Regions from separate parts of the Homo sapiens genome. Here region 2 is linked to region 1. The links come from fine-mapping of genetic effects on gene expression. A gene starts in region 1. The other region holds a variant in brackets. All regions are shown on one strand. Distances are from middle to middle. Region 1 holds the start of TMEM38A (transmembrane protein 38A). Region 2 overlaps TMEM38A (transmembrane protein 38A).

Region 1 (15,671 bases):
TGAGCTAATAGTTTTTACTTTTTTTTAAAATATAAAGATGGGGTTTTGCTATGTTCCCCAGGTGGGTCTTGAACTCCTGGCTTCAAGTGATCCTCCCGCCTAAGCCTCTCAAAGTGTTGAGATTACAGGCATGAGTCTCCATACCCGGCTGGTTTTTACATTAAAAAAAAAAGAAAGAAGACTATTTTGTGAGACACAAAAATTACAAGAAATTCAAATCTCAGTGTCAATGAATAAAGTTTTATGGCACACAGCCATACCCATTCATTTACATATCATGTCCTGCTGCTTTTGTACTACAACAGCAGAGCTGAGTCACATTGTTGTGCCAGACAGACACCATATGGCCCGCAAAGCCCTCAGATATTTACTATGTGGCCCTCTACAGAAAAACATGCCAACCCCTGCTCTGGGGTCATCTTTGCCAACCCTAACCAGTCTCACAGTAAAACCAACATAAAAGAAAGGGGAATTGAGAGCTGCAGAGAGTCAGATACTGACTCTAACCCTAACCCTAACCCCAACTCCAACCCCAACCCTAATCTTGAAGGACTGGTTTGACACCTAAACCCAGGGTGCCTGAAAACAATTCTGTTGGATGTTTCAATTTGCTTTAACCACTTTGAGCTGGGTTTGCAGTGTTTGTAACTGAAAGCATCCTAATTCAGGCAAGTGAAAGGGAAGGTGTTTCTTGGTGATGACTTACTCTGGTCCCCTTGAATGCCAAGGAACAGAAACCCCTCCGAGGGAAGGCAATTTAGTACGTGAAGACTCCAGAGACCTGGGTTCTAGACCCTTCTTCCAGGGTTTCCAGTCAATCACTCTCCCTCTCAAGCCCTCCAGAATGAAAAGAATGGGTCCAGATTAGGCCAGGCATGGTGGCTCACACTTGTAATCCCAGCACTTCAGGAGGCCGAGGCAGGCAGATTACCTGAGGTCGGGAGTTCGAGACCAGCCTGGCCAACATGGTGAAACCACGTCTCTACTAAAAATACAAAAGTTAGCCGGGTGTGGTGGTGCATGACTGTAATCCCAGCTACTCAGGAGGCTGAGGCAGGAGAATCACTTGAACCTGGGAGGCAGAGATTGCAGTGAGCTGAGATGGTGTCACTGCACTCCAGCCTGGGTGACACAGCAAGACTCCATCTCAAAAAAAAAAAAAAAAAAAAAAAAAGAATGGCTCCAGATTAGGTGATCTACAAGGGTGCTACCCGAAGTATCTGCAGACTGGGGCTGCATGGTAAGTACAGCATACACAACACAAGCCCAGAAATTTCTACTTTTTCAGGGATGACAACCTGACATCCCTGCTCCATCCGAGCTTGTGCTGAACACACCATCTTGCTGAAAACGGTTTAGACGAGCCTAGTATTATCTAGCCGACAGGATTAGTCACGTGCAGCACAACCTGTATACAGGGCTGATCCAGCACAGACTAGAAACATTAAATGCTTGGTCTGTTTCCAGGAAGTTTTGAGAGGCGCTGCTCAGCAAGACCCTTCCCCTAGCGAAGGATCGTGAAAACAGGACCTCCCACCATCAACAGATGCCAATCAAACGTTACTCATTCCAGGCCGGGTGCAGTGGCTCACAACTGTAATCCCAGCACTTTGGGAGGCCGAGGCAGGTGGATCACCTGAGGTCGCGAGTTTGAGATCAGCCTGGCTAACATCGTGAAACCACGTTTCTATTAAAACTACAAAACAATTAGCAGGGCGTGGTGGCGCGTGCCTGTAATCCCAAATCCTCGGGAGGCTGAGGCACGAAAATCACTTGAACCCAGGAGGTGGAGGCTGCAGTGAGCTGAGATCACGCCACTGCACGCCTGGGCAACAGAGTGAGACTCTGTCTCAAAAAATAAAAAAAGGTTACTCATTCCAGGCAACAGCAGTATACAGGGGATACAGAAAGAAACAAAGACCGGTGGCTCTGCCCCAACAAGCATATGGGGAGGAGAAATACTAAACAAATATTCACATGTGACTGCTCTGGTGGGAAAGTTTGGGTGTCCTGGGAATACACACTGCAGAGACCCAACATGGCATGTGCATGGGGAAGGGTGGGAGGTAAAAAAAAAGCCTTTCCAGCCGGGTGCCGTCGCTCAAGTCTGTAATCCCAGCACTTTGGGAGGCCAAGGAGGGCAGATCACCTGATGTCAGGAGTTCGAGACCAGCCTGGCCAACATGGCGAAACCCCATCTCTACTAAAAATACAAAAATTAGCTGGGCATGGTGGTGGGTGCCTGTAATCCCAGCTAATAGGGAAGCTGAGGCAGGAGAATTGCTTGAACCCAGGAAGCGGAGATTGCAGGGAGCTGAGATGGTGCCACTGCACTCCAGCCTGGGCAACAGAGAGAGGCTCCATCTCAAAAAAAAAAACAACAAAAAAACAAAAAACAGGCTTTCTGAGGAAGTGCCAGAGCTCCAAGTTCTGACCTCAAACATGGGCAGTTTAACAAATGTGAGCTCAAATCCTGCCTCTGTCCTTCTGCACAGGTGACCTGGTGACCTGGGACCATCCCTGCACTATCTATGTGCATTCCCTCTTGTGTCAATAGGGGTGTCAGGCAGCTAGGAAGACCTTAGCACACTGCCTGGCACGCATGACGCTCTCAACAAATGCAGCCACTATGGTATTACAGTTAAGCCAGGCAAAGAGGATGGAGGGCAAAGAGCAGCTCCCACAGGGGAAGCAGCAGGTGCAGCACCTGGGCTGGAAGGAGACTGGACACAGCAAAGCAGGAAGCTCCTGACAGAGCACTGGTGCCCTGCCTGGCATCCCTGTCACTGATGCTCCTGCCACTTTGTGCCAAATCTCCCGCCCACTGGAGCTCTGATTCGGATCTGTACAGTGCAACTCTAGGGCCTGGTAGTGCCTTCCACGTGGGGGTTAAGTAACACATGGCTGCTGAGTCAATGTATGAATGGATGGATCAATGGATAGACGGACAGATGGTCTAGTGATTGAGTGCACAACCGCTAGAGTCAGAAAAACCCAGGTTCTAATCCTGATTCTCATTGATTCCCTATGTGGCCACAAAAAAGTTGAGCCACATCTCTGACCCTCAGTTTCCTGATCTGTAAAATGGGAAAGTGACCATTATCTTTTAAGAATGGAGGGAGAATGCAACACTAACAGGAAGCACCTAACTGGGTCAGCACCCAAGGGCAGGCCCCCAAAAAGGGGAGCTGCTGGAGTGTCTTCAAAATCTCAGCTCGGCCAGGCGTGGTAGCTCATGCCTGTGATCCCAGCACTTTGGGAGGCTGAGGTGGGAGGATCGTTTGAGACCAAGAGTTGGACACCAGCCTGGTTAACACAGCGAGATACCTATCTCTACAAAAAACATTTAGAAAATTAGCCAGGCGTGGTAGTAAGTGCCTGTAGTCCCAGCTACTTGGGAGCCTGAGGCAAGAGGATCTCTTGAACCCAGGAGCTCAAGGCTGCAGTGAGCTATGACTGTGCCGCTGCACTCCAGCCTGGGCAACAGAGCAAGACCCTGTCTCTAAAAGAAGAAAACCTCTGTTCCTCAGGGTTCCCCCATCCTTGGGCAGTGCTCCATCATGGCATCCACCGCCTTGACTGTGACGCCGCCTCCTCAAATGGCCTTCCCTTCCACACCCCAGCAGGAGGGCAACCCCATCACCATCCTGTGACTCCCTGCCTCTGTCACCTAACGTCACCTCTGTCACTATCTATTCCCTGCTTAGAAACCATGTGTCCCACCCCATGGTAAGTTCCACTCTATCTGTCTTACCCCTGCTGTACCCCAGCACCTAGCACAGTAGCCAGCATGCGTTAGGTACTCAAATATCTGGTGAATGAAAGAATTAATGAATGGATACAATAGTCATGTACAGATCCCCTTAAGACTCCAAATAGTTACACAATCAAATTCAGCAGGAAGTGTAAATTCTGGGGCCTCCAGGGCCCAGGCAGATGATAGACATATGAAGGGGTTAGGGCTGGGATGAGGCAGAGTCTACAGGCCCCACCTCCTCAGAGTCCTTCTCAACTACACTCAATAGATGCAAACAGCTCTCCTGAATCTTGAGTTGCAGAATGTTCCAATTTTTCAAGAAAAATCAGACATCTTAATTTTTATATAAAATCTCCTGATTAAAAATCTAATGTTGGCATCTAATTTTAAAAGTGGCAGGTCTGCAGCACTCTGAAAGCAACAGCTATGTGTGAGGTTGTTCATTCATTCATTCACAGGCATCGGAGGACGGGTACGGCAAGAACAAAGGATGGGACAAGCCAAGCTAGGGCCTCTTCTCTGAAGTTTACAGTCATATGTGAGGGGCAGACATTAGCCAGATGACAGCAAACATAACAGAACATTATAACGGTAGGAAGTGATGTGAGTGCTCACATCAGGGAGGTCTGGTAGGAGAAAGAAATAGATGACAGAGGTAGGCAGAAAGGCTAGCACATTCTCAGTCATCTCCCACTCACACACACGCTCAATTAAAGAGAAAACTTGTGGCTCACGCCTGTAATCCCAGCTCTTCGGGAGGCCAAGGCAGGGATCACTTGAACCCAGGAGTTCGAGACCGGCCTGGGCAACGTGGAGAAACCCCATCTCTACAAAAAATACAAAATTTAGCCTGGCATGGTGGCACACACCTGTAATCCCAGCTACTAAGGGGGCTGAGGTGGAAGGATCACTTTAGCTCAGGAGGTCGAGTCTGCAGTGAGCCATGATCGCACCACTGCACTCCAACCTGGACAACAGAGCAAGACCTTGTGTCAAAAAAAAAAAAAAAAAAAAAAGAGAAAGAAAGAAAACGAAGGTAGGGCTTGGCGAAACAGAACTGTCCTCTGAAGTGGACCATGCAATTCCAGGATCCAATTAGACCTTACCTGTGCTGGGCTCCCTGGACTCCTCCCCAAAGCCCTGCGTGTCCTTCTTTTTCCTACAAAGAGGAGCAGACAGTGTCCACTTTCAATGGGACATAGAGTCCTCAGCCCCCTGACCCCCAGCTCAGAAGGCCACAAACACTAAGTTTCAGCCCTGGCCCTGCCGCAAACTTGCTGTGTGACCTCTGACGTTCAATACCCTTCTCTGGGCCCCCACTGCCCGGACAATCACAGCCAGGTCAGCAGCCACCGACCGTTTACAAAGTGGCCCGACAGTGCGGGTGCAGGGCGGAAGGTCCGCGGTGGGGCTATTTCTTGGGGGATGGGGCTTAAGCTCTCCAGGAAGGTGAACAGAGGGACAACCAAGGAACGGAGAGTATGGGTTTAAGGTCTCTCGGGGGGTGGGGGGCGAGGAAGATAAACCAGGCTGGAGGCGTGCCCAGAGGGCGGATAGGGCGGGGCCTGCGGCTTGGGGGCGGGGCCTGAGAAGTGCGCCGAGATCACGCTTATGAGGGCGGGGCTACGGGTTCCCCGGATGGAGCCGCAGTCCGGCCGCGACCTACTCACAGCTTAAAGTTCAGCACCGCCCCGGCATTCATCAGCAACGTCCTGCAGAGGGAGAATTACAGTTACTAGGGGCGCCCCCGCGTCCTGCCTGGCTCTCTCTTCCCAGCCTCTGGTCCCCCTAATTACCCGAACAGCAGGATGTCTCCGATCATCGTTACGGCCGAAGCGTCCGTCAGAACCGGAAGCGGAAGCCCCAGGGAGGGAGGGGAGAGGAGCACAAGCCGACCAATCCTAAAGCAACAGTGGCGAGGGCTGGGCCAATCGAAGGTCAAGGCTGGGAGGGTCCCGCCCTCTGCAGGCCAGACCCCCTTAGGGGAGCGCGAGCGCCCCACCTCGCTGGGGAGGCCCCGAGAGCCAGAATGGGAGGAGCGGGGTCTCCTGGGGGCGGGATTGGGTCACGCGTTCGAAGCGTGCCGCGCATGCGTGAGGTCTCGATGCCGTAGGGTTAGCTGGGCAGCAATTCCTACTCACTTTCTGGGGTCCCAAATTGGGCTTCTGGACAAAAGGAATCCTTTGACTCCTGAGCTGCACAGGGTGCGGGGTCCTGACGCAGTGGGGTCCCTAGAAACGGGTGCCCCAACCAACTGGGCTCTAAAATGAGATCCTCCTGGGCCCCATGGGGAACGGGGGTTCCCACTGAGCTGCCCCCCACAAGACGTCCTGATTTGCAGAGCCCCACCGGAGACGGGGTTCCTGATCGAACGGACCCTATGGGGCAGAAAAGTCTTGACGGGGCTCCACAGAGGACCGAGGTCCTAACCTATCTCCACGGGGAACAGGGGTTCTGATTCATGGGGTCCCACCATGGCGTAGGGGTCCTCACTGGGCTCCACCGAAGATCGGGGTCCTAATTGAGCCCACGGGGACAAAGTCCTGGCCGATCCGGCCCCCTGGGAACGGGCGTCCCGCGTGGGTGGGCTCCGTGAGGGACGGGCCCCCAGAACAGGCAGCTCCCCAGCCTCCCTCGCCTTGCACGGGTGCCCCGCACCCCGCCTCGCTGGGCGGAACGGGGTAGCGATGGCAGGAGGGTCAACGCCTGGGACGCCCGACCGTCCAGCTGCGTCCGTGGTGCTGGGCGTCCCCACCACCTGTCCCGGGGTGGGCCGTCGCCCCTCCTCTCCCGCGGGGGCCGGGCCTGGGGTGGCGCCTGGCGGGCGGGGGCGGGCCCAGCTGCGGGGGCGCAGTCGCCGGGCCGCGGGCGGCGGGACGGACGAGGCCGGGGCCCCGGGTGGCACCCGGCAGGCGGGCAGGCGGGCGCCATGGAGCTGCTCTCGGCGCTGAGCCTGGGCGAACTGGCGCTCAGCTTCTCGCGGGTGCCGCTCTTCCCCGTCTTCGACCTCAGTTACTTCATCGTCTCCATCCTCTACCTCAAGTATGAGCCAGGTGAGCCGGGGCGGGGGGCTGGAGGGGACCGGCAGCGGGTGGCGCGGGCCGGGGCAGCTCGGGGGTCGCAGAGAGGGGAAGCCCGTGCGTGGTGGAGGGAGCGAGGGACAGGTTCAAGGATTGCATCGTGGGAGTAGGCAGGCGCTAGAATCGTGGGGTTCTCTCACGCCGGGGTGAGCCCGGGGGAGAAGCCCCCAGGACGATGAAGCTGGGGGAGGGGAAGGAGAGGCGTGCGCGGGTTTAGAGGAGGGGGAACAGGTGCTTGGGGTCGGGGCTCCTGGTTGGGTCAGAGCTGCAGGAACTTGGGCAAGGGGCGCCGGCTGTGGCGAGGGTGCAGGTGGGGGTCGGTGCATCTGTTCTGGCCGCGCGCAGGTGTGACCTCCCTCCTTGACCTTGGCACGCGGATTGAGAGCGCCAGCGGAGTGTCTATAAGGGCCACTGCGCTGGGGGCTGCGGTCAGGTTCAGCGAAAGTGACACCGGTTCTCCTCCCCACTGCAACTGCCCAGCACCCTCCACTCCCCTCCCTTCCCCCACGGTGCTGAATCTCCGAGCCCCCACGGGAATTCTTCCAGCCCTGGCTCCAGATCCTTTCCACTTACGGAGCAGAACCGGCCCCAAGGCTGGGTGACTTGGGGTCAGTGTCCTCCATCTCAGCTCCAGACTCCACGCTGGGGAGGTCACAGGAGGGTACAGCCTGCTTCTTAATTTTTAAAATGAGGATGAATGGCTTCCTTAGAACGTGTTCTATTTTTATAAAAGGTTCACCGTGAACAAATGTTTAAATGTTTCTTGTTCACCGTTATTCTAGAACACCAGCAACTTACTAGATAATAGATTTTAGGCTTAGAAAAATAAAGGAACCCCAAACTTCATAAGCCTTTCTCCCACTTAGATGTAAATTACCACTATAGCTCAGAAAGGAAATAGCTTTATTCTCAGAGGATAAAAATAAGCGCCCCTGTTTACTAAAAACTCAAACTGAAAAGGGCAAAGGAAAAAAAGAGAATTACTGTCAACATACTGGTGGCCAGCCACCTTTCTTGATGTCTCTTCTATTCATTTACGGCTATATAGTTATAAACGTAAATGCACGCTTTTTTTTTTTTTTTTTTTTTTGCGGTTTTTTTTTTAGATGGAGTTTCGCTCTGTCGCCCAGGCTGGAGTGCAGTGGCGTGATCTCGGCTCACTGCAACCTCCACCTTCCAGGTTCAAGCGATTCTCCTGCCTCAGCCTTCTGAGTAGCTGGGACTACAGGCACCCGCCACTACACTTGGCTAATTTTTGTATTTTTAGTAGAGACAAGCCTTCACCATGTTGGCCAGGATAGTCTCGATCTCCTGACCTTGTGATCCACCCACCTAGGCCTCCCAAAGTGCTGGGATTACAGACGTGAGCCACTGCACCCAGCCAATGCACGCTCTTATGCTAACAGGATTACACTCTATTTGCTAGGAATTTTTATTCTATTTTTGCCTATCCACATGCCAGAGCCTATTTTCTTAAAAGCTATCCTGGAGAACATTACTTTGCAAAACAAAATAGGCTTTTGTGTTGTCCTAGCATGAACATGGGGCTATCTTTCCTTTCTGGGGAAGAATTCTTGGTGGTTCAGGCCAGTTCCTTGGGCAGTTGCAGAACCTTAGAAAATCTGAAACTGGCTGGGCACAGTGGCTCACGCCTGTAATCCCAGCACTTTGGGAGGCCAAGACGGGCAGATCGCCTGAGGTCAGGAGTTCGAGACCAGCCTGGCCAACATGGAGAAACCCCGTCTCTACTGAAAATAAAAAAATTAGCCAGGCATGGTGGCACATGCTTGTAATCCTAGCTGCTTGGGAGGCTGAGGCAGGAGAATCACTTGAACCTGGGAGGCGGAGGTTGCAGTGAGCCGAGATCACGCCATTGCACTCCAGCCTGGGCGACAGAGCAAGACTCTGTCTCGAAAAAAAAAAAAATCTGAAACTGAGGAGGGTTGGAGCCCTGTGGGAATGTAGGACACAAATGTCTTGAGAAAAGAGGTCTCCAAGCTGCCTGGGAACTTGCAGGAAGGTTCAAGATATTTCTGCAGAAGTCCTAGAATAAGCCATCCAGGCTCTAAGTGCCAGAGCCTGAAGGTTCCTGAAGGCTGAGAAGTGGTTCCAAACCCTGGCTATTCATGAATTCATGAGACGCTCCTGGGAGCTTTTTTTCTTTTCTTTTTTTTTTTTGAAACGGAGTCTCGCTCTGTCGCCCAGGCTGGAGTGCGGTGGCGCCGCCTCTGCTCACTGCAAGCTCCGCCTCCTGGGTTCACACCATTCTCCTGCCTCAGCCTCCCAAGTAGCTGGGACTACAGGCGCCCACCACCATGCCCGGCTAATTTTTTTTTTTTTTGTATTTTTAGTAGAGACAGGGTTTCACCGTATTAGCCAGGATGGTCTCGATTTCCTGACCTTGTGATCCGCCTGCCTCGGCCTCCCAAAGTGCTGGGATTACAGGTGTGAGCCACTGCGCCCGGCCTCCTAGGAGCTTTTAAACCCCCTATCTCCACCCCCCACCAATTGAATCAGAATATTAATCTCCCCTCCCTCAGTGACTGATGTCTGTTATCAGGGCTGAGGATACTCCACCCAGTTCAACCTCCTCCTTTCATAACTGGGGAAACAGGAAATAGTGGCTAAGCTATCTTAAATACACAATGAGCCTGTGGTCCCATGGCTGGTCAGTTGCAGCCTCGGGACTCAGCCCAGGTCTGCTTGACTCTAAGAATCAGTACAATTGATGTGAGATTGGTTTCCTTAGAAAAGAAAGGTGTTGGAGGCCAGATGTGATGGCTTATGCCTGTAATCCCAGCACTTTGGGAGGCGAGGCGGGTGGATCACTTGAGCCCAGGACTTTGAAACCAGCCTGGGCAACATGACAAAACCCCGTCTCCACTACAAATGCAAAAAAATAGCCAGGTGTGGTGGCGCACGCCTGTAATCCCAGGTACTTGGGAGGCTGAGACATGAGAATAGCTTGAATCCAGGAGACGGAGGTTGCAGTGAGCCGAAATCTCGCTGCTGCACTCCAGCCTGGGTGACAGAGCCTGGCTGAGACTCTGTCTTGGAAAAAAGAAAGAAAGAAAAGAAAAGTGAGGTGTCGGATTGAACTGTTAGTCCCAGTTTGGTGTGCGTGCTGGGTATCTGTAAATTTTCTTCTCAGAATTTGTGTGCTGGACCAGCTACAGAATTTGCCAGGCCGATACAAAGTATCAGTGTGGGGCCTTTTGTTCAGAAATTAAGAATTTCATAGCCAGGCATGGTGGTGTGTGTCTGTGGTCCCAGCTACTTGGGAAGCTGAGGCTGGAGGATCACTTGAGCCCAGGAGTTGGAGCTCAACTGCGCCTGGCTGGGTCAGGCTTTCTTGAGAATCCTGAGAATGGATGAAGCTCAGAGTGTGGTCCTCAACAGAGCAGCATCAATGTTGCCTGGGAGCTGCAGCGAGCTATGATCACCCCACCGCCCTCCAGCCTGGGCAACAGAGCAAGACCGTGTCTCCTAAAAAAATAATAATAATAATAAAAAAAGAATGTCAGCATAGGTCAGATAATCTCAGCATTTGGGGAGGTCAAGGTTGGAAGATTGCTTGAGGCCAGGAGTTCATGGCCAGCCTGGGCAACATTGTGAAACCCCTTCTCTATAAAAAATACAAAAATGGCTAGGCGCGGTGTCTCATGCCTGTAATCCGAGCACTTTGGGAGGCTGAGGTGGGCAGATCACCTGAGGTCGGGAGTTCAAGACCAGCCTGACCTACATGGAGAAACCCTGTCTCTACTAAAAATACAAAATTAGCCGGACGTGGTGGCACATGCCTGTAATCCCAGCTACTAGGGAGGCTGAGGCAGGAGAATCGCTTGAACCTGGGAGGCAGAGGTTGCGGTGAGCCAAGATTGTGCCATTCCACTCCAGCCTGGGCAACAAGAATGAAACTCCGTCTCAATAAACAAATAAATAAAAATTAAAAAATGCAAAATACAAAAATATTAGCCAGGTGTGGTGGCATGTGCCTGTAGTCCTAGCTACTAGGGAAGCTGAGGTCGGAGGATTACCTGAACCCTGCAAGGTGGAGGCTGCAGTGAGCCATGATCGTGCCACTGCACTCCAGCCTGGGCAACAGAGTGAGACCCTGTCTCAAAAAAAAAAGAAAAAAGAAACTAAACGTCTCTGAATCATGGGAGTCAGTTCTACCACTAGCACTGAGTAAACACCACAATGGTTATTTCACCACCATGAGCTTCAGTTTATTTGTCTGTGAAATGGGATCATTGGTAAGAGAACCCCAGACTCCCTTTCCTAGCGATTGTAAAGATCTATTGAGAATTTTGTCAGGGATAAGGTCTAAGGCATTTGTGAGGGGTGGTGATGTTTATTTGGAAGTCTAGGGAGGAATATATTACTTGGGATACTGGCATTTTCTGGGTCAGGCTTGCTTACTTTTCTGTTTCTTTTCTTTTCCTTTTTTTTTTTTTTGAGATGCAGTCTTGTTTTGCTGCCCAGGCTGGAGTGCAGTGGCACGATCTCAGCTCACTGCAACCTTCACCTCCCAGATTCAAGTGATTCTCCTGCCTTAGCCTCCTAAGTACCTGGGATTACAAGCATCCACCACCACACCCAGCTAATTTTTTTGTTTTGTTTTGTTTTTGGAGACGGAGTCTTGCCGTGTCTCTAGGCTGGAGTGCAGTGGCTCGATCCCGGCTCACTGCAACCTCCACCTGCCGGGTTCAAGCGATTCTCCTGCCTCAGCCTCCCGAGAAGCTGGGATTACAGACACGCGCCACCATGCCCAGCTAATTTTTGTATTTTTAGTAGAAACGGGGTTTCACCACGTTGGCCAGGATGGTTTCAATCTCTTGACCTCGTGATCCGCCCACCTTGGCCTCCCAAAGTGCTGGGATTACAGACATCAGCCATTGCGCCTGGCCCATTTTTTTTGTATTTTTAGTAGAGATGAGTTTTCACCATGTTGGTCAGGGTGGTCTCAAATTCCTGAACTCAAGTAATCCACCCGCCTCAGCCTCCCAAAGTGCTGAAATTACAGGTGTGAGCCACTGCTCTTGGCCAATTTAACTTTAAAAAAATTTTTTTTTTTCGAGACAGGGTCTTGCTCTGTCTCCCAGGCTGGAGTGCAGTAGTACAGTCATAGCTCACTGTGGCCTCCAACTCCTGGGCTCAAGCAATCCTCCCACCTCAGCTTCCCATGAGCAACTGTGCCTGGCTGGGTGAGGCTTTCTTGAGAATCCTGAGAAAGAATGAAGCTCAGAGTGTGGTCCTCAACTGAGCAGTGTCAATGTCACCTGGAAGCTGATTAGAAATGCAGAGCCCCTGCGGTGGCTCATGCCTATAGTCCCAGCACTTTGGGAAGCCAAGGTGGCTGGATCACAAAGTCAGGAGTTTGAGATCAGCCAGGCCAACATGGTGAAACCCCGTCTCTACTAAAAATACAAAAACTAGCCAGGCATGGTGGCGGGCTCCTGTAATCCCAGCTACTTGGGTGGCTGAGGAAGGAGAATCGCTTGAAACCAGAAGATGGAGGTTGCAGTGAGCTGAGATCGCACCACTGCACTCCAGCCTGGGCAAAAGAGCGAAACTCCATCTCAAAAAAAAAAAAAAGAAAAGAAATGCAGAGTTCTGGCCAAGCTCAGTGGCTCACACTTGTAATCCTAACACTTTGGGAGGCCGAGGCGGGCGGATCACCCGAGGTCAGAAGTTCGAGACCAGCCTGGCCAACATGGCGAAACCCTGTCTCTTCTAAAAATACAAAAATTAGCCAGTCATGGTGGCACACGCCTGTAATCCCAGCTGCTCAGGAGGCTGAGGCAGGAGAATCACTTGAACCAGGGAGGTGGAGGTTGCAGTGAGCCGAGATTGCGCCATTGCACTCCAGCCTGGGCAACAAGAGCCAAGAGTGAAACTCCATTTCAGGAAAAAAAAAAAGAGAAAGAAATGCAGAACCCAGGCCCCACCCAGCTCTGCCCAATGAGAGTCTGTATTTGAGCAAAATCTGCGGGTGATTTGGCTCATTTCTGGGGCCTCCAAGCTCCATGTGAGGAAAGAGAAGGAAGCAGTTGAGTGCTGGCTGCAAAACTGAAGAAATGAGTGAATCAATGACAATCCTGGTTGCCTTGAGCCTTGACCCATCCAAAGAATCTCTCAGACCAGTACTTCTCAAACTCACCTACACACCAGACTCACCTAGGGAGATTTTAAAAATCCTTTTGGGCCAGACGTGGTGGCTCATGCCTGTAATCCCAGCACTTTGGGAGGCCAAGGCGGGTGGATCACTTGAGGTCAGGATCGAGACCAGCCCGGCCAACATGGTGAAAGCCCGTCTCTACTAAGAAAAAATACAAAAATTAGCCACGCATGGTGGTGTGCACCTGTAATCCCAGCTACTTGGGAGGCTGAGGCACAAGTATTGCTTGAACGCGGGAGGTGGAGGTTTGCATTGAGCCAAGATCTTGCCACTGCACTCCAGTCTGGGTGACAGAGCAAGACTCCGTCTCAGAAAAAAAAAAAAAAAAATCCTTTTGTCCTGATTGTCACCCCTCTTTCATTTAAATCAGAATTGTGGGTCAGGCATGGTGGCTCACGCCTGTAATCCCAGCACTTTGGGAGGCTGAGGCTGGTGGATCACCTGAAGTCAGAAGTTTGAGACCAGCCTGACCAACATGGTGAAACCCTGTCTCTACTAAAAATACAAAAATTAGCCAGGCGTGATGGCGGGCGCCTGTAGTCCTGGCTACTTGGTAGGTCGAGGTGGGAGAATCACTTAAACCTGCGAGGCGGAGGTTGCAGTGAGCAGAGATCATGCCATTGCACTCCAACCTGGGCAACAGAGCAAGACTCTGTCTCAGAAAAATAAATAATAAATAATAAATTAATTAAATAAATAACTCAGAATCATGGGGCTGAAGGAGGTGGCTCACATCTGTAATCCCAGCAAGTTGGGACACCAAGGCAGGCAGATCACTTGAAGCCAGGCGTTGGAGACCAGCCTGGCCAACACAGTGAAACCCTGTCTCTACTAAAAATATAAAAATTAGTCAGGCATGGTGGCGCAAGCCTGTAATGCCAGCTACTCCGGAGGCTGAGGCACGAGAATTGCTTGAACCTGGGGGGAGGCGGAGGTTGCAGTGACTCTGTCTCAAAAAAAAAAAAAAAAAAAAGAGATGGGGGTTCTGTTGTGTTGCCCAGGGTGGTCTTGAACTCCTGGGCTCAGGAGATCCACCTGCCTTGGCTTCCCAAAGTGTTGGGATTACAGACATGAGCCACTGCACCCGGCCAACCACTGATCTTTCTTTCTACTACCTCCAGAGTTTTGCCTTTTCCAGAATGTCCTTTAGTTGGAATCATGCAGTATGTACCCCTTTCAGACTGGCTTCTTTCACTTAGGAATATGCATTTAAGGTTCCTCCATGTCTTTTCATGTCTTGATAGCTCACTGGATAATATTTCTTTCTTTTTTCTTTTTCTTTCTTTTTTTTTTTTTTGAAATGGACTTTGCTCTTGTTACCCAGGCTGGAGTGCAATGGTTTGATCTTGGCTCACTGCAACCTCTGCCTCCCAGGTTCAAGTGATTCTCCTGTGTCAGCCTCCTAAGCAGCTAGGATTACAAGCATGTGCCACCACGCCTGGCTAATTTTTTGTATTTTTAGTAGAGATGGGGTTTCTCCATGTTGGCCAGGCTGGTCTCGAACTCCCGACCTCAGGTGATCTGCCCGCCTTGGCCTCCCAAAGTGTTGGGATTACAGGCGTGAGCCACTGCACCCGGCCAAATAGTATTTCATAGTAAGGATGTTTCATGGTTTGTTTATCCACTCACTCCCTGCAGGACATCTTGGTTGCAGTTTTAACTTTTTTTTTTTTTTTTTGAGACGGAGTCACTCTGTTGCCAGGCTGGAGTGCAGTGGTGTGATCTCGGCTCACTGCAACCTCCGGCTCACTGGTTCAAGCAATTCTCCTGCCTCAGCCTCCTGAGTAGCTAGGATTACAGGTGCCCGCCACCATGCCCAGCTAATTTTTGTGTTTTTAGTAGAGACAGGGTTTCACCATGTTGGCCAGGCTAGTCTTGAACTCCTGACCTCAAGTGATCCACCCGCCTCAGCCTCCCAAAGTGCTGGGATTACAGGTGTGAGCCACCACACCCAGACAAGTTTTAACATTTTTCATATGCTGTTAGGACCAAAGAAAACCATTCTTTGATCCCTGATTTGAGATCTCTGGTTTGAACTACAAGCTTTTTGAGGGCAGGAGGCTGTTGACTCCTGCTCCACCTTGTGAGGGAGAGGCTGCTATCTCCATTTAACAGGGGAGGAAACTGAGGCAGAATGCTGAGCTCAAAAGCTCAGGAGGAGAAGACTGGTCCTAGAGTCACTGAGAGACTCGGTCAGTACCCCATGCTTCATACACCTCTGACTGAATAGCACAGTGCTAGAGTGCCCTGGGGACCCTTCTAGTACCACCCAGTCATCTGCAAATGAGGCATTGACCCCTGAAAAGGGAAAGTCACAGAGTCCATTGCAGACCAGGACTTAGGGACCCAAAGCTTTTTCCTCTCTTCTGAGGCAGAGCTGATTTTTTTCTGTTTGTTTATTTATTTATTTATTTTTATTTTATTATTTTATTTTTTTGAGACAGAGTTTCGCTATTATCGCCCAGGTTGGAGTGCAGTGGCGCGATCTCAGCTCACCGCAACCTCCGCCTCATGGGTTCAAGCGATTCTCCTGCCTCAGCCTCCCGAGTAGCTGGGACTACAGGTGCCTGTCACCACGCCCAGCTGATTTTTGTATTTTTAATAGAGATGGGGTTTCATTCTATTGGCCAGGCTGATCTCGAATTCCTGACCT
Region 2 (15,671 bases), 24 kb after region 1:
GTGGTGGCGCATGCCTGTAATCCCAGCTACTCGGGTGGCTGAGGCAGGAGAATCACTTGAACCCGGGAGGAGGAGGTTGCAGTGAGCCGAGATCGCGCCACCGCGCTCCAGCCTGGTGACAGAGTGAGACTCTGTCTCAAAAAAAAAAAAAAAAAAAAAGAGCTATACACTTAAAAATGTTTAAAATGGGCTGGGCATGGTGTCTCACGTCTATAATCCCAACTCTTTGGGAAGCTGAGCCAGGTGGATGGCTTGAGCCCAGGAGTTTGAGACCAGCCTGGGCAACATGGCGAAACCCCGTGCCTACTTTAAATATACAAAAAATTAGCCTGGCATGGTGGCGCGCGTGCCTGTAGTCCCAAATACTTTCGAGGCTGAGGTGGGAGGAGTGTTTGAGCCCAGGAAGTCAAGGCTGCAGTGAGTCGTGATTGCACCACTGCGCTCCAGGCTGGGTGATGGGAGTGAAACCCTGTGTCCAAAAAAAAAAAAAAAAAAAAAAAGTAAAGTGATAAATTTAATGTATATTTTACAAAAAAAAATTCTTTTTAAGACAGCAGGTGTAAGAATACCAGCATAAGGCTGGGCACGGTGACTCATGCCTGTAATCCCAGCACTTTGGGAGGCTGAGGTGGGAGGTTCACTTGAGTCCAAGAGTTGGAGACCAGCTTGGCCAACATGGTGAAACCCCTTCTCTACTGAAAATACAAAAATTAGCCAGGCATGGTGGTGGCTGCCTGTGATCCCAGCTACTCGGGAGTCTGAGGCAGGAGGATCGCTTGAACCTGGGAGGCAGAATTTGCAATGAGCTGAGATTGCACCATTGCACTCCAGCCTGGGTGACAGAGTGACACTCTGTTTGAAACAAACAAAAAAAGTTAAAAAAAAAAAAAAAAAAGAATACCAGCATAAGCTCATAGGGATCTTGGGATCAGCTGAGGTCAGAATAGCAATTTCTTTTGTTTCGTGTGTGTGTGTGTGTGTGTGTGTGTGTGTGTGTGTGTGTGTGTGTATGTGTGTGTTTTAGATGGAGTCTTGCTCTGTTGCCCAGGCTGGAGTGCAGTGCAGTGGTGCAATCTCAGCTCACTGCAGCCTCCACCTCCTGAGTTCAAGTGATTCTCCTGTCAGCCTCCTGAGTAGCTGGGATTACAGGCATGCACTACCGTTCCCGGCTAATTTTTGTATTTTTAGGGACGGGGTTTCACCATGTTAGCCAGGCTGGTCTTGAACTCCTGACCTCAAGTGATTTGTCCACCTTGGACTCCCAAAGTGCTGGGATTACAGGTGTGAGCCACCATGCCCGGCCCAGAGTAGCAATTTCAAAGTACTCCCAGGTACAAGCTGGCCCGTCTCACCAAGCCTCAGTCTCCTCTTGACAATGAGACTCCTGATAATAAAAGCCATCACTTGGCTGGGACACTGATGAGGATTTATTAAGTCCTAAATGTGAACTAGTGTCATCATCATTGCCACCTCTCTGGGCATGAAGGAAAGGACTCCCACTCGGCTCTCTATTTTCTCTGTGCAACCTCAGGCATGCGTACAGCCTCTCTGAACCTTGGTTCCTCCTCTGAAACTTACAAACTGCACAGTGTTGGGTGGGCGCTCTGGATTAGGATAGGCTGACCAGAGCATATGGGAGTGAAGCCTGCCCTTGGCATGCTGGTGATGATGGGGGACACTCCTGTGCCTCCCAGGAGCAGTCGAACTGTCCCGGCGCCACCCCATCGCGTCCTGGCTGTGCGCCATGCTGCATTGCTTCGGGAGCTACATCCTGGCTGATCTGCTCCTTGGGGAGCCACTGATCGATTACTTCAGCAACAACTCCAGCATCCTGCTGGCCTCAGCTGTCTGGTAAGCCATGCTGGGCATGGGAGAGCAGAGCCGGGTGGGGGAAACAACAACCTGGGCACCAGGGAGGAGAGAGGTTGGAGGAATTAGAATGCACCAGCAACAGCCCTCATGATGGCCCTGAATATGCTGCCCTCCATGCCCATCTCTGGTCTAGGCACAGCACGTTGGGGAGGGTGGTCTGATATAACCACAGCTCCCTACCCCCATCCTTCACAGTCTGCCCATCCCCTGGCACTCACTGTTCTCTCCCCAAAAGGTACTTGATTTTCTTCTGCCCCCTGGACCTCTTCTACAAGTGTGTCTGCTTCCTGCCTGTGAAACTCATCTTCGTGGCCATGAAGGAGGTGGTGCGAGTCCGCAAGATCGCGGTGGGCATCCATCACGCCCATCACCACTACCACCACGGGTGGTTCGTCATGATTGCAACTGGGTGGGTCAAAGGTAAATAGGATGATGACAATGAAAAATCATCCCAGTGGAGAACTTTTGGTTCAGTGGTACTACCAGGCACCCCAGCTAGGAAAGCCATTGCTCCAGGCACAGGGGCATAAAGACTGCAGTAGGTGTTCAAACCTCCCTACAGGTATCAGCCGATACCTTTAGGGTAAATGGGAAGATTCTTCTAGAAATGTTACTGTCAGGGGTACCTAAGACAGTGATGATGATGACAAAAGCCAGCATTGCCAGAGCAGGTTTTCTCACTTGCAGCACTACTGACATGTGGGGCTGGATCATTCTTTGTGGTGGGGGCTGCCTTGTGCACTATAGGATGTTGAACAGCACCCCTGGCCTCCACCCACGAGATGCCAGTAGCACACTTGTCCCCAGCTGTGACAAAGAAATTGTCTCCAGACATTGCTAAACGCCTCCTAGAGGGCAAAATGGCTGCAGGTGAGAACCCCTTCTTCTCTAGAGCTCTAGCTATAGGAGTTCTTAACTTTTGTGGACCATGGCCCTTTTGCCAGTGAAGCCTACAGACCCTTTCGTGTGCAGAAAATAGAGCTAGACATGGTGGCTCATGCCTGTAGTTCTAGCTACTCAGGAGGCTGAGGTGGGAGGATCACTTCAGCCTAGGAGTTCAACATTACAGTGAGCTATGATTGTGCCACTGCACTCCAGCTGGGCAACAGAGCAAGAGTCTGTCTCTAAAAAATTAAAATTAAAAAATAAAGTAATAATGAAAATGTTATTAGAAATAAAGAACGTTTTATAATGATAAAAGGGTCAATCCACCAGGAAGATATAACAACTATAAACATATATGCACCTAGAAACAGAGCACCAAAATACATAAAGCAAAAATGGACAGAAGTTAGGGGAGAAAGAGATAATTCAACATTAAAAGTTGGAGAAGTGGGCCAAGGAGTAACAGGAAAGCAGGGAAAGAAGGCCTGAGCAAGTGCCAAAAACCATTGGGCACTTTATCCTCGCTTCCTGCCCACCAGATATGGGTACCCACAAAGTGCCAAGACCTAGAATCACCCTCCATTGAGCCATGGTGTCCTCAGTTATTCCTTGCTATGGGGAGCCAACCTGTGCATTATACAATGGTGAGCCACCTCCCTGGCCTCGACTCACTAAATACCAGTAGCGCTCCCTCCCCAGCTGTGACAACTCAAAGTGTTTCTCAACATTGCCAGATGCTTCCTTGGGGGCAAAATGGCCCCAGATGCGATTCCCTGGTCCAGTAGTACATCTCAGGCACCCAGTTGGTGCAGCAGTTCCTGGAGTGGATGTCCAAGTCTATTTAACCAGTACATTTAGGGTAAATGGGAAGATTCTTCCAGAAATTTAATCATTCTATCTCCATTTGAGTCTTCTTATTGTCTCTCCAGGAAGCTTTTAGTACTGAGCAGATTCCCCAGGGGTATAGCATCTCCTCCAGAGGATGGGTGGCTTGAGAAAGATTAAGAACTTGGAGCCTTGAGGAGGAGAGAGACTGCGGGTGGGGGCTGCCTTGGAAGCCTCATACACAGCTTGGGGTCCTGGATTAGGGGCATCAGGACAGACAACCCCAGGTTGAAGACCTGCCTTGCAGGTGGGGACATGACTGATTCCTTTAGGTGGCTTTTGCTCTGAATTTGCCATATGATCCTCAGCAAGGCTCTGTCCTCTCTGAGCCTCAGTTTCCCCACCTGCAGCTGATGATCATACACCCCCAGGCTCAGTGTCCTTCTAGAGAAGATTCTGGGAGTGGAGAGACTGCTTCCTTGGGAATTCAAACAAGAGGAAAGGAGACCTGGGGGTGGTGGGCTTGTTCAGAAGCACCCTGTCCTGTAGGTTCTGGTGTCGCCCTCATGTCCAACTTTGAGCAGCTGCTCCGAGGGGTCTGGAAGCCAGAGACCAACGAGATCCTGCACATGTCTTTGTGAGTATCCCACTCCACCTCTCCCTCCATGCCTCCTGTATGTCCGGGTGCCTGACCCTGAGTTGGATGCTGCTGATAACTTAGAGAGGCCTCAACCCTTGACTCTGCCTTTCAGGAGCTTTCAGAGGCTATGACTGGGGAAGCTCAAAGCAGAGCCATAGCTCTGCTCAGTGTGGAGGTTGGGGAGGGCAGAGCTGCAGGAAGGAGGCAATACCTGATTGGGGTTTTGAAGGGTGAGCAGGAGTTCACTGGCCAAGAAGGAGCCTCCCAACAGAGGCCAGCATCTCTGCCAACTGTGAAATCACAGAAGAGCAGCAGTGCTGCTGGGTGTGCGGGGTCAGGGTACAGGGTATGCATGGGATATGGAGTGTGCATTGGGAGCATATCTGGAGCTAAGTGGACAAGGCCAGGTGACAGCATCCAAGACCCAATGCAGGATCCCACACTGCATTTAGCTTAATGTTTTTTATTTTTTTATTTTTTGAGACAGAGTCTTGCTCTGTCGCCCAGGCTTGAGTATGCTGGCATGATCTCGGCTCACTGCAACCTCCACCTCCCAGGTTCAAGAGATTCTCGTGCCTCAGCCTCCTGAGTACCTGGGATTACAGGCATGTGCCACCATGCCCGGCTAATTTTTGTATTTTGAGTAGAGATGGGGTTTCACCATGTTGGTCAGGCTGGTCTGGAACTCCTGACCTCAAGTGATCTGCCGACCTCAGCCTCCCAAAATACCGGGATTACAGGCATGAGCCACCCTGCCCTGGACAGTTTAGTGCATTTTTAAAAGACCTTGTTGGGGGCTGGGTGTGGTGGCTCACACCTGTAATCTCTGCACTTTGGGAGGCCAAGCCTGGAGGTTTGCTTGAGTCCAGGAGTTCAAGACAAGACTGGGCAACATAGTGAGACCTATTCTATATTAAAAAAAAAAAGTTAAATTAGCTAGGCATGGTGGGATGCACTTGTGGTCCCAGCTACTCAGGAGGCTGAGGCAAGAGGATTACTTGAGCCCAGGAATTCGAGGCTTCAGTAAGCTAGGATCATGCCACTGTACTCCAGCTTGGGTGGCAGAGCAAGACCTTGTCTCAAAAAAAAAAAAAAAAAAAGGGATCATGCATTTAAATCACCTGGCCCTGGAACCTGGTGAGTGCTTTGGAAATATTAGAGAGAATTATCATCATTAGGCTGGGCACGGTGGCTCACGCCTGTAATCCCAGCACTTTGGGAGGCTGAGGTGGGCAGATCACCTGAGGTCGGCAGTTTGAGACCAGCCTGACCAACATAGAGAAACCCCATTTCTGCTAAAAATACAAAATTAGCTGGGTGTGGTGGTGCATGCCTGTAATCCCAGCTACTTGGGAGGCTGAGGCAGGAGAACCACTTGAATCTGGGAGGCGGAGGTTGCAGTGAGCCGAGATCACGCTATTGCACTCCAGCCTGGGCAGCAAGAGCGAAATTCCATCTCAAAAAAAAAAAATTAACTAGGGGTGGTGGCATGCCTGTAGTCCCAGCTACATGGGAGGCTGAGGCAGGAGAACCGGTTGAACCCGGGAGGCAGAGGTTGCTGTGATCCGAGATCCTGCCACTGCACTTCAGCCTGGGCAATAGAGCAAGACTCTGTCTCAAAGAAAGAAACAGAGAGAGAGAGAGAGAGAGGAAGGAAGGATTATTAAATACATGCAGTGAAGCTGGGCATGGTGGCCCACCCCTGTAATCCCAGCTATTCAGGAAGCTGAGGTAGGGGGATTGCTTGAAACCAGGAATTCAAGACCAGCCTGGGCAACATTACAACATCCCATCTCTAAAAAAAAAAAGAAAAAAAAAATTAGCCAGGTGTGGTGGTGTGTGCCTGTAGTCCCAGCTACTCAGGACGCTGAGGCAGGAAGATCGCTTGGTCTCAGAAGGTTGAAGCTGGAGTGAGCTGTGATCACACAAGTGTACTCCAGCCTGGGCAACAGAGCGAGACCTTGTCTCAAAAAAAAAAAAGCAATGAGAGACAGACATCAGGAATAGAAGTCACAGGTCTGTCTTTTGCAACAAATAAAAATATCTTAAACCTATTTTGCAAGGAAAAAAATAAAAGTTAAGGAAAACTCTGCATGTTGTAATCACATTTTCTGGGGGAAATAAGCTGATGGGGGATCCCCAAGATCATCCTGATGTTCCATGATTTGCTAGAAGGACTCAGAGAACTTAGCAAAGCCATTATATTCAGGGTTATGATTTATTACAGTGACAAGATATAGAATAAAATCAGCAGAGGCAGCTCACACCTGTAATCCCAGCACTGTGGGAGGCCGAGATAGGAGGATTGCTCAAGGCCAGGAGTTCAAGACCAGCCTATGCAATAGAACAAGACTCCATCTCTACAAAAAAAAAAAAAAAACTTAAAAATTAAGCAGGCACAGTGGCACATAACTCTAGCCCTAGCTACTTGGGGGGCTGAGGTGGGAGAATCACTTGAGCCTCAGAGTTTGAAGTTACAGTGAGCCATGATCAGACCACTGCACTCCAGCCTGGGTGATAGAGAGAGACCCTGTCTCTGTAAATAAATAAATAAATAAATAAATAAATAAATAAAACGAAATCAGCAGGGGTTGGCTGGGCGTGGTAGCTCATGCCTGTAATCCCAGCACTTTGGGAGGCTGAGGCGGGTGGATTATTTGAGGTCAGGAGTTCAAAACCAGCCCGGCCGACATGGCGAAACCCCATCTCTAGTAAAAATACAAAAATCAGCTGGCGTGGTGGCGGGCATCTGTAATCCCAGCTACTCGGGAGGCTGAGGCAGGAAAATCACTTGAACCCAGGAGGTGGAGGTTGCAGGGAGCTGAGATCATGCCACTGCATTCCAGCCTGGGTGACAGAATGAGACTCTGACTCATACACAAACAAGAAATCAGCAGGGGCAAAATGTGCATGAGGCAGAGTACAGGAAAGAAAAGGTGAAAATATCCAGTTTTCCTCTCCCAGTGGAATCATGTGGACAGGGCTTCATTCTCCCAGCAGCAATGTGTGACAACATGCATGGTGTACTGCCAACCAGGGAAGCTCTTCTGAGCCTGGGTATCCAGGATTTTTATTGTGGCTCAGAACTAGCTAACCACCTGTGTGGCTGACCTCAGTCTTCAGCCCCTCTAGAGGTCCACCTGATGCTGCATGGCCCAAGACCCCCACCATAAATTACGTTGTTACTACCTGGTGTGGCCCAAGGCCGTCCTCAGGCAAACAAAGACAGTCTTATCAAGGCAGGACACTCCAAGGGCTTAGAGGGCATATTCCAGGAGCTGGACAAAGGCCAGATCTTTCCTTGGACCAGGTTAACCCATCATGCATAGGATGACACCATCTCAACCTGCCACCTTACAATCAGGAGAAGCTGTGGCTGGGCGCAGTGGCTCATGCCTATAATCCCAGCACTTTGGGAGGCCGAGCAGATCACTTGAGGCCAGGAGTTCGAGACCAACCTGGCCAACATGGTGAAACACTGTCTCTCCTAAAAATACAAAAATTAGCCAGGCATGGTGGCATATGCCT[G/A]TAATCCCAGCTACTTGGGAGGCTGAGGTGGGAGAAACACTTGAAACAAGGAGGTGGAGGTTGCAGTGAGCCGAGGTTGTGCCACTGCACTCCAGCCTGGGCAACAGAGTGAGATTCCATCTCAAAAGGAAAAGAAAAGAGAGAAGCTGGGATGGGAGCTGGTGCCAGGGCAGGGGGGTGTCTGGGCCAGAGTTATGAAGACTTGAGCCATGCAGGCACCTCCCGGTAATGACAGCTGCTCCCTCCAGCCCCACCAAGGCCAGCCTGTATGGAGCCATCCTCTTCACCCTCCAGCAGACCCGCTGGCTCCCAGTGTCCAAAGCCAGCCTCATCTTCATCTTCACCTTGTTCATGGTGTCCTGTAAGGTAAGCCTTTCTCTTCTTGCAGCATTCTTGCCTTGACCAATGCCACCCTGCCACCTCCAGGTTGGGAGTGGGGAAATTGGACACTCCCAGCCTTATGTGGCTGGGACAGGCAGCCCAGAGAGGGGAGATGCTTGCCAGTAGGTCACTGGGAAGAGAGTTTAAAAGGCAGTGTCCAGCAGCCAGGACACAGATGAGAGGAACAGGCCTTCTGTGTAAAGGACCCAGCCTGAGCCAGGGTCAAGGTGGGCCCACTCTCTTGGGTACAGAGACCAGAGGGACAAGAAGCTGAAATGGCAGCATCAGGTACCCAGGAACTCAGTTGGACCAGGAATACTTCTAGTCTGACAGTCATGCCTTGAGTTGACATCACCCCACCCAGGAGGGGTCTTCAGGGGCTGGGCTCTCTCCCTCTGCATGAAGATCTTAGCTCAGGGCTGTGTCTTCCCTGGGTGAGGACTCCAGGGCTGTCAAAAGGGAGTGAGCATGTCTTCCTGCATTAGGCGAGAAGGGAGAGGCAAGCAGATGGCTGGGATCCTGTCCTGCTATGTTTGTAGCTCTACCCCAGGCCAAATGTCTTAGTCCATTCAGGCTGCTGTATAACAGAATGCAGTACCATAGACTGGGTGGCTTAGAAACAACAGAAATTTATTCCTGGGCAGGCACGGGGGCTCATGCCAACACTTCAGGGGGCCAAGGCAGGCAGATCACTTGAGGCCAGGAGTTCAAGACCAGCCTGGGCAACATGGCGAAACCCCATCTCTCCTAAAAATACAAAAATTAGCCAGGCGTGGGGTCACATGCCTGTAATCCCAGCTACTCGGGAGGCTGAGGCAGGAGAATCGCTTGAACCCGGGAGGTGGAGGTTGCAGTGAGCTAAGATCGCACCACCGCACTCCAGCCTGGGCAACAAATTGAGACTCTGTCTCAAAAACAAACAAACAGGCAAACAAAATACAAATACAAAAATTAACCAGGCGTGGTGGCGCATGCCTGTAATCCCAGCTACTTGGATGGCTGAGGCATGAGAATTGCTTGAACCCAGGAGGTGGAGGCTGCAGTGACCTGAGATCATGCCATTGCACTCCAGTTTGGGCAACAGAGTGAGACCCTGTCTCCAAAAAAAGGAAAAGGAAGAAATGTATTTCTTACAGTTCTGGAGGCTGGGAAGTCCAAGATCAGGGTACTAGCCTGGTCGGGTTCTGGTGAGGGCCCTCTTTACTGGTTGCAGATAGGCAGCATCTCACTGTGTCCTCGCATGGTGGAAGGGACTGGTTAGCTCTCCTGGGCCTCTTTATAAGGGCACTAATGTCTTTCCTGAGGGCTCCACCCTTATGATCTAATTACCCCTCCAAAGGCCTTACCTCCTAATACCATCACCTTTGTGATAGGTTTCAACATATGAATTTGGGAGGACACAGACCTTCAGACCTGCACTTAGCACAGCTTTTCTCTGAGCCCAGGTGTCGTGGGGAATTCTGGGGGATGGGTGACCAGCAGTCTCAGTGTGCTTGGAACTTTCCAGGGGTCAACACTTGAAATCTGGCATCCTGGGAAACCTGAGATGGTCGCCCATCATCCTGGGGGTGCATGCAGCCAGAGGGCTGGGTCTGGGCTACCTCCAACCTTGACTTTGATGACATTCTCTCCCCTCTTCTCCCCACCCTGCCCTCCACTCCTTTGCTTTCTACCTTGGTCTCCCTCTGTCTCTCTTGCTGTCTCCCTGGCCACCCCACCTCAGGTGTTTCTGACAGCCACCCACTCACACAGCTCCCCCTTTGATGCCCTGGAGGGCTACATCTGCCCCGTGCTGTTTGGTTCGGCCTGCGGGGGTGACCATCACCACGACAACCATGGTGGGTCCCACAGCGGTGGTGGGCCAGGAGCTCAGCATTCGGCCATGCCCGCCAAGTCCAAGGAGGAGTTGAGCGAGGGCTCCAGGAAGAAGAAGGCCAAGAAGGCGGATTAGGGGGTGGCCCAAGGGGCACCGGGGAGAGGACCCGGACCCAGGACCCTCTGAGCTGGGAGGCTTCCTGCGCTCAGATCTATCCTTTCCTGGCCTTGACTTCCCCATCTGCAAATCAGGGTCATTGGCTCACCCTCCAGGGCTGATGTGGGGGTTGAGATATGGGGATGAGGATGAAGAACTTTTGTAGAAATCGGGGTTCCCTCTTTCTCTCTGCCAGGACCCCATAGAGTCACAGCTTTTGGAGGGGTTCACAGAATCCTGGCAGCAGCTCCAGTCAAGAATGTCACTGGTTGGCATGATATTCTTAGTTGTATTTTTCCTTCTTTAAAATTGCATCTTGACCAGGCACAGTGGCTCATGCCTATAATCCTAGCACTTTGGGAGGCCGAGGCGGGCAGATCACCTGAGGTCAGGAGTTCAAGACCAGCTTGGCCAACATGGTGAAACCCCATCTCTACCAAAAATACAAAAATTAGCCAGACGTGGTGGTGCACGCCTTTAATCCCAGCTACTCGGGAGGCTGAGGCAGGAGAATCACATGAATCCAGGAGGTGGAGGTTGCAGTGAGCTGAGATCTTCCCACTGCACTCCAGCCTGGCCAATAAGACCTGTCTCCAGCAAGACCCTGTCTCAAAAAAAAAAAAAAAAATTGCATATTGACTCCTGAAGAACTTCAAGCCATGTTGAGATCCATTCATTTGATGGACATTTTCTAAGTACCTGTGAGCCAGGTGCTGCCATTTCAAAGTCTCTTCTTACCACGCTCCTCAGTGGCTAGACATTTTCACGTGGCCAGAAAGTCCCGACTCTTGCTGGGCGTCCCTGGACAAGTTGCCTTCCTCCTCTGAGCTTGGCGCTCCCCATCTGTATAGTGGAGACCCTTGGCCCCCCTCTGTACGGAAGGGCCGATGCGAAGCTGCAGTTAAAAAAGGCTCACATGCTCCTAGCCTCGTGCAGTCAGGAGGGGAGACCAGGACAGTTGGAAATTATGATTGCAAATGGCTTTGCATTTTAGATCATTCGTGTGTGTGGATCAGAGAAACGCACAAGTTCCCTGGCACAAAGGAAGCCCTCAGTAGACACGTCTAGGGCAGGCTTGAGAGATCAGATGGCGTGAAAGGCTTGTGATCTGTTCGTCTCAGGCTCCCCCTAAACCAAAGAAATGGAAACAGCTGGTTGGGGTTCCACGATCCAGCTCTATCAAGGGGCTCTGAGTGTGCACAGTTGGGACCTGGATGTATCAGGTCTCCCTCAGGCTGGAGTCCACTGTCACTCATTCAGCCATTGAACAAACATACAGATGCTTACCTGCTCTGTGGTCAGCCTTGTGCTGCTGCTGGGCGGGCCAGGAGCCTGCTTCAGTGTGAGCGAGGTGGATGATATTATAGCTGAAGGGTCCCTCCTGGTCACCCTCATCTCAGCCTAGGTCACCAGGATGTCTGAGAGGGGTGGGTGCATGGGACGGGCGTGGCCAGTCTCAGGTGAGGTTTGGGCCCAGACCTCGTTGGAGTCCCAGACGTTGCCAGGCTGTTGGAAAATTGCCTTGTTCCTGTGATGCCTGGGAGTTAGGTGGGTCCTGGGGAGGTTTCATCCTCTTGCTTGTCCACCTCAGCTCGGTGTGGAGGGGCAGCCAATAAATCATTGTGAATGAACCCTCATGGCTTGTCTGATTTATGCCTGGGATTTTGTTTTTTGTTTTTGTTTTTGTTTGAGACCGAGTCTCACTCTTGCCCAGGCTGGAGTGCAGTGGCCCGATCTTGGCTCCCTGCAACCTCCACCTCCCGGGTTCAAGCAATTCTCCTGCCTCAGCCTCCCGAGTAGCTGGGATAATAGGTGCCCGCCATCACACCTGGCTAATTTTTGTATTTTTAGTAAAAGCGGGGTTTCACCATGTTGCCATGCTGGTCTTGAACTCCTGACCTCAAATGATCCACCCACCTTGGCCTCCCAAAGTGCTGGGATTACAGGTGTGAGCCACTGAGCCCAGCCACATGCCTGGGATTTTGGCCTCAAGATGTGGGGATGGCTGGGCATGGTGGCTCATCCCTGTAATCTCAGCACTTTGGAGGGCTGAAGCGGGCAGATCACCTGAGGTCAGGAGTTCAAGACCAGCCTGGCCAACATGGTGAAACCCTGCCTCTACTAAAACTACAAAAATTAGTCAGGTGTGGTGGCAGGTGCCTGTAATCCCAGCTACTCGGGAGGCTGAAGCAGGAGAATCGCTTGAACCTGGGAGGTGGAGGTTGCGGTGAGCTGAGGTGGAGACATTGCACTCCAGCCTGGACAACAAGAGCAAAACTCATTCTTTAAAAAAAAAAAAAAAAAAAAAAGGCTGGGCATGGTGGCTCACACCTGTAATCCCAGCACTTTGGGAGGCCAAGGCAGGTGGATCACGAGGTCGGTGGATCACGAGTTCAGTAGATCAAGACCATCCTGGCTAACATGGTGAAACCCCATCTCTACTAAAAATACAAAAAATCAGCTGGATGTGGTGGCGGGCGCCTGTAGTCCCAGCTACTTGGGAGGCTGAGGCAGGAGAATGGCGTGAACCTGGGAGGCAGAGCTTGCAGTGAGCGGAGATCGCGCCACAGCACTCCAGCCTGGCAGACAGAGCGAGACTCCATCTCAAAAAAAAAAAAAATGTATACTGTGTACAGTATACATTACATACATTATATGAAATCCTAGAAAAAGCAAACTAATGTATAATTACAGAAAGCTGATCAGTGGGTGCTTGGGGAAAGGCAGGTAGGGTGGGGTGGGCAGGAGGGATTTTGAAGGGGCAAGGGGACATGAGTGATGAGTCTGTTAACTTCTTTGATTGTGTTAGTTTCTCGGGTCTATACACATGTCAGAACCTATTACATTGTACATTGCAAATACACACAGTACCTCATTTGTCAGTGATGCCTCAATAAAGCTGTAAAAAAGAACCCTTCAATTATAAGGGAAAAAAGTGCGAGCTTGGTGGCTCACGCCTGTAATCCCAGCACTTTGGGAGGCTGAGGCAGGAGGATCACTGGAGCCCAGGAGTTGGTGATCAGCCTGCACAACATAGTGAGACTCTGTCTCTACAAAAAAAAATTTAAAAATTAGCCGGGGGTGGTGACTCGTGCCTGTAGGCCCAGGCACTCTGGAGGTTGAGTGGGGAAAATCACTTCAGCCCAGGAGGTTGAGGCTGCAGTGAGCTAAGATTGGGCCACTGCACTTCAGCCTGGGCGGAACAGTGAGACCCTGTCTCAAATAAATAAATAAAATAAGAATAAAGTAGAAAAAAACTCCACACCAAATTGGGCAAAAGAAGCTGGGCATGGTGACTCACACCTGTAGTCCTAGCTACTCTGGAGACCAAGGCAGGAGGATCACTTGAGCCCGTTAGGTGGTGTCCAACCTGGGCAACATAGCAAGACCCTGTCTCAAAAAAAAACTGGGCAAAAGATTTGAATAGACACCACCAAAGAAATTATATGGTTGGCAGATATCATATAAATTGCACATTAAAACCACAAGCATATGCCACTGCATACCTGTTATGAATTGAATTGGGTTCCTCTCAAATTCATTTGTTGAAGTCTTAACCCCTAAGGTATTAGGGGGTGGGACCCTTGGGAGATGATTAGGTCATGAGGGTGGGGCTCTCATAATGGGATTAGTGCCCTTACAGAAGAGGCCCCAAAGAAACACTTTGCTCTTCCTACCATGTGAGGACACAGAGAGAAGACACGTATGAACCAGGAAGCCGGCCCTTACCACACAGTGAATCTGCCAGTATCTTGATCATGAACTTCCCAGCCTCCAGAACTGTGAGAAATAAATTTCCGTTGTTTATAAGCCACCATTTTCTAGTATTTTCTTGTAGCACCCTAAATGGACTAAGACAGGAGATAAGGCCTTTTTTTTTTTTTCTTTTGGAGATGGAGTTTCCCTCTTGTTGCCCAGGCTGGAGTGCAGTGGCGCCATCTCAGCTCACTGCAATCCCTGCCTCCCAGGTTCGATCGATTCTCCTGCCTCAGCCTCTGGGATTACAGGCATGTGCCACCACGCCCAGCTAATTTTTTGTATTTTTAGTAGAGACAGGGTTTCACCATGTTGGCCAGGCTGGTCTGGAACTCCTGACCTCAGGTAATCCACCTGCCTCGGCCTCCCAAAGTGCTGGGATTACAGGGGTGAGCCACCGCACCCGGCCTAATTTTTTTGTAGAGTTGGGGTCTCCCTATGTTACCCAGGCTGGTCTCCAGCTTCTGGCTCAAGTGATCCTCTTGCCTTGGCCTCCCAAAGTGCTGGGATTACAAGCATGAGCCACTGCTCCCCGCCACCTTTTAGAATGGATAAAATAAAAATAACCGACAATATCCAGTGTAGGTAAGGATTTGGGGGCAGCTGGAACTCACACACTGCTGGTGGGAGACAATTGGACAGTTTCTTTTAAGGTTTTTTATGTTTTTAAAATTTTTAATTTTTTACATTTTTTTTTGAGACAGGGTATTGCTCTGTCGCCCAAGCTGGAATGCAGTGGCTCAATCTTGGCTCACTGTAACCTCCGCCTCCTGGGTTCAAGCGATCCTTCCACATCAGCCCCCTGAGTAGCTGGGACTACAGGTGCATGCCACCATGCCTGGCAAAGTTTTGTATTTTTTGTAGAGTCGGAGTCGTGCTCTGTTGCCCACACTGGCCTTGAACTCTTGGGCTCAAGCAATCCTCCTGCCTCAGCCTCCCAAAATGCTGGGATTACAGGCGTGAGCCACCATGCCCAGTCAGATACACATCTTCAGCCATGAGAAGAATGCAAATCAAAACCACAGTGAGTTGTCACTTCACATCCAACAAAATGGCTAAAATTAAAATGACAATATGGTCATTTTAGTGCTGGTGAGGATGTGGAGCAATAGGAACTCTCATATGCTTTGGTAGGAAGGTAAAAAGGTGCAACCACTTTGGAAGACAATTTGGCAGGTTTTTTTATAAGTTAAACATAGAAGCCAGGTGCAATCGCTTACGTCTGTAATCCCAGCACTTTGGGAGGCCAAGGTGGGCAGATCACTTGAGTTCAGGAGTTCGAGACCAGCCTGGTCAACGTTGTGAAACCCTGTCTCTGCTACAAATACAAAAAATTAGCCAGGCGTGGTGGTGTGCACCTATAATCCCAGCTACTTGAAGGCTGAGGCGGGAGGAGCCCTTGAACCTGGGATGGGGAGGTTGCAGTGAGCTGAGATTGCACCGCTGCACTCCAGCCTGGGTGACAGAGCAAGATTCTATCTCCAAAAAAAAAAAAAAAAAAAAAAAAAAAACCAAAACAAAACAAAACAAAAAACAAAATGTTAGCCTGGCACAGTGGCTCACCCCTGTAATCCCAGCACTTTGGGAGGCCGAGGTGGGCAGATCACTTGAGATCAGGAGTTTGAGATCAGCCTGACCAACATGGTGAAACCCCAACAAGGTGTAATTTTGTAAAAATACAAAAATTAGCCAGGCATGGTGGCACCTGCCTGTAATCCCAGCTACTCAGGAGGCTAAGACGGGAGAATCACTTGAACCCAGGAGGCAGAGGTTGCAGTGAGCTGAGATTGCGCCACTGCACTCCAGCCTGGG

The links.
Region 2: its variant is fine-mapped to the expression of TMEM38A in whole blood (TOPMed, PIP above 0.99).

What each region holds. Positions count from the first base shown.
Region 1 is chr19:16,654,532-16,670,202 of GRCh38, forward strand. It overlaps TMEM38A (transmembrane protein 38A), which reads left to right and starts at 6,608. Exons shown (of 6, transcript NM_024074.4): 1 at 6,608-6,810. The coding sequence starts at 6,687. It overlaps SMIM7 (small integral membrane protein 7), which reads right to left and starts at 5,613. Exons shown (of 5, transcript NM_024104.4): 1 at 5,554-5,613; 2 at 5,428-5,469; 3 at 4,864-4,916. The coding sequence starts at 5,579. RefSeq lists silencers at 6,206-6,405, 6,426-6,675 and an enhancer at 6,961-7,769.
Region 2 is chr19:16,678,290-16,693,960 of GRCh38, forward strand. It overlaps TMEM38A (transmembrane protein 38A), which reads left to right. Exons shown (of 6, transcript NM_024074.4): 2 at 1,695-1,851; 3 at 2,108-2,292; 4 at 4,132-4,219; 5 at 7,999-8,116; 6 at 9,855-11,734. The coding sequence ends at 10,082. Among named protein-coding and RNA genes, the nearest start is that of TMEM38A, 25 kb to the left of the region's middle. RefSeq lists an enhancer at 1,268-1,768. The variant G/A (reference allele first, on the strand shown) is at 7,751.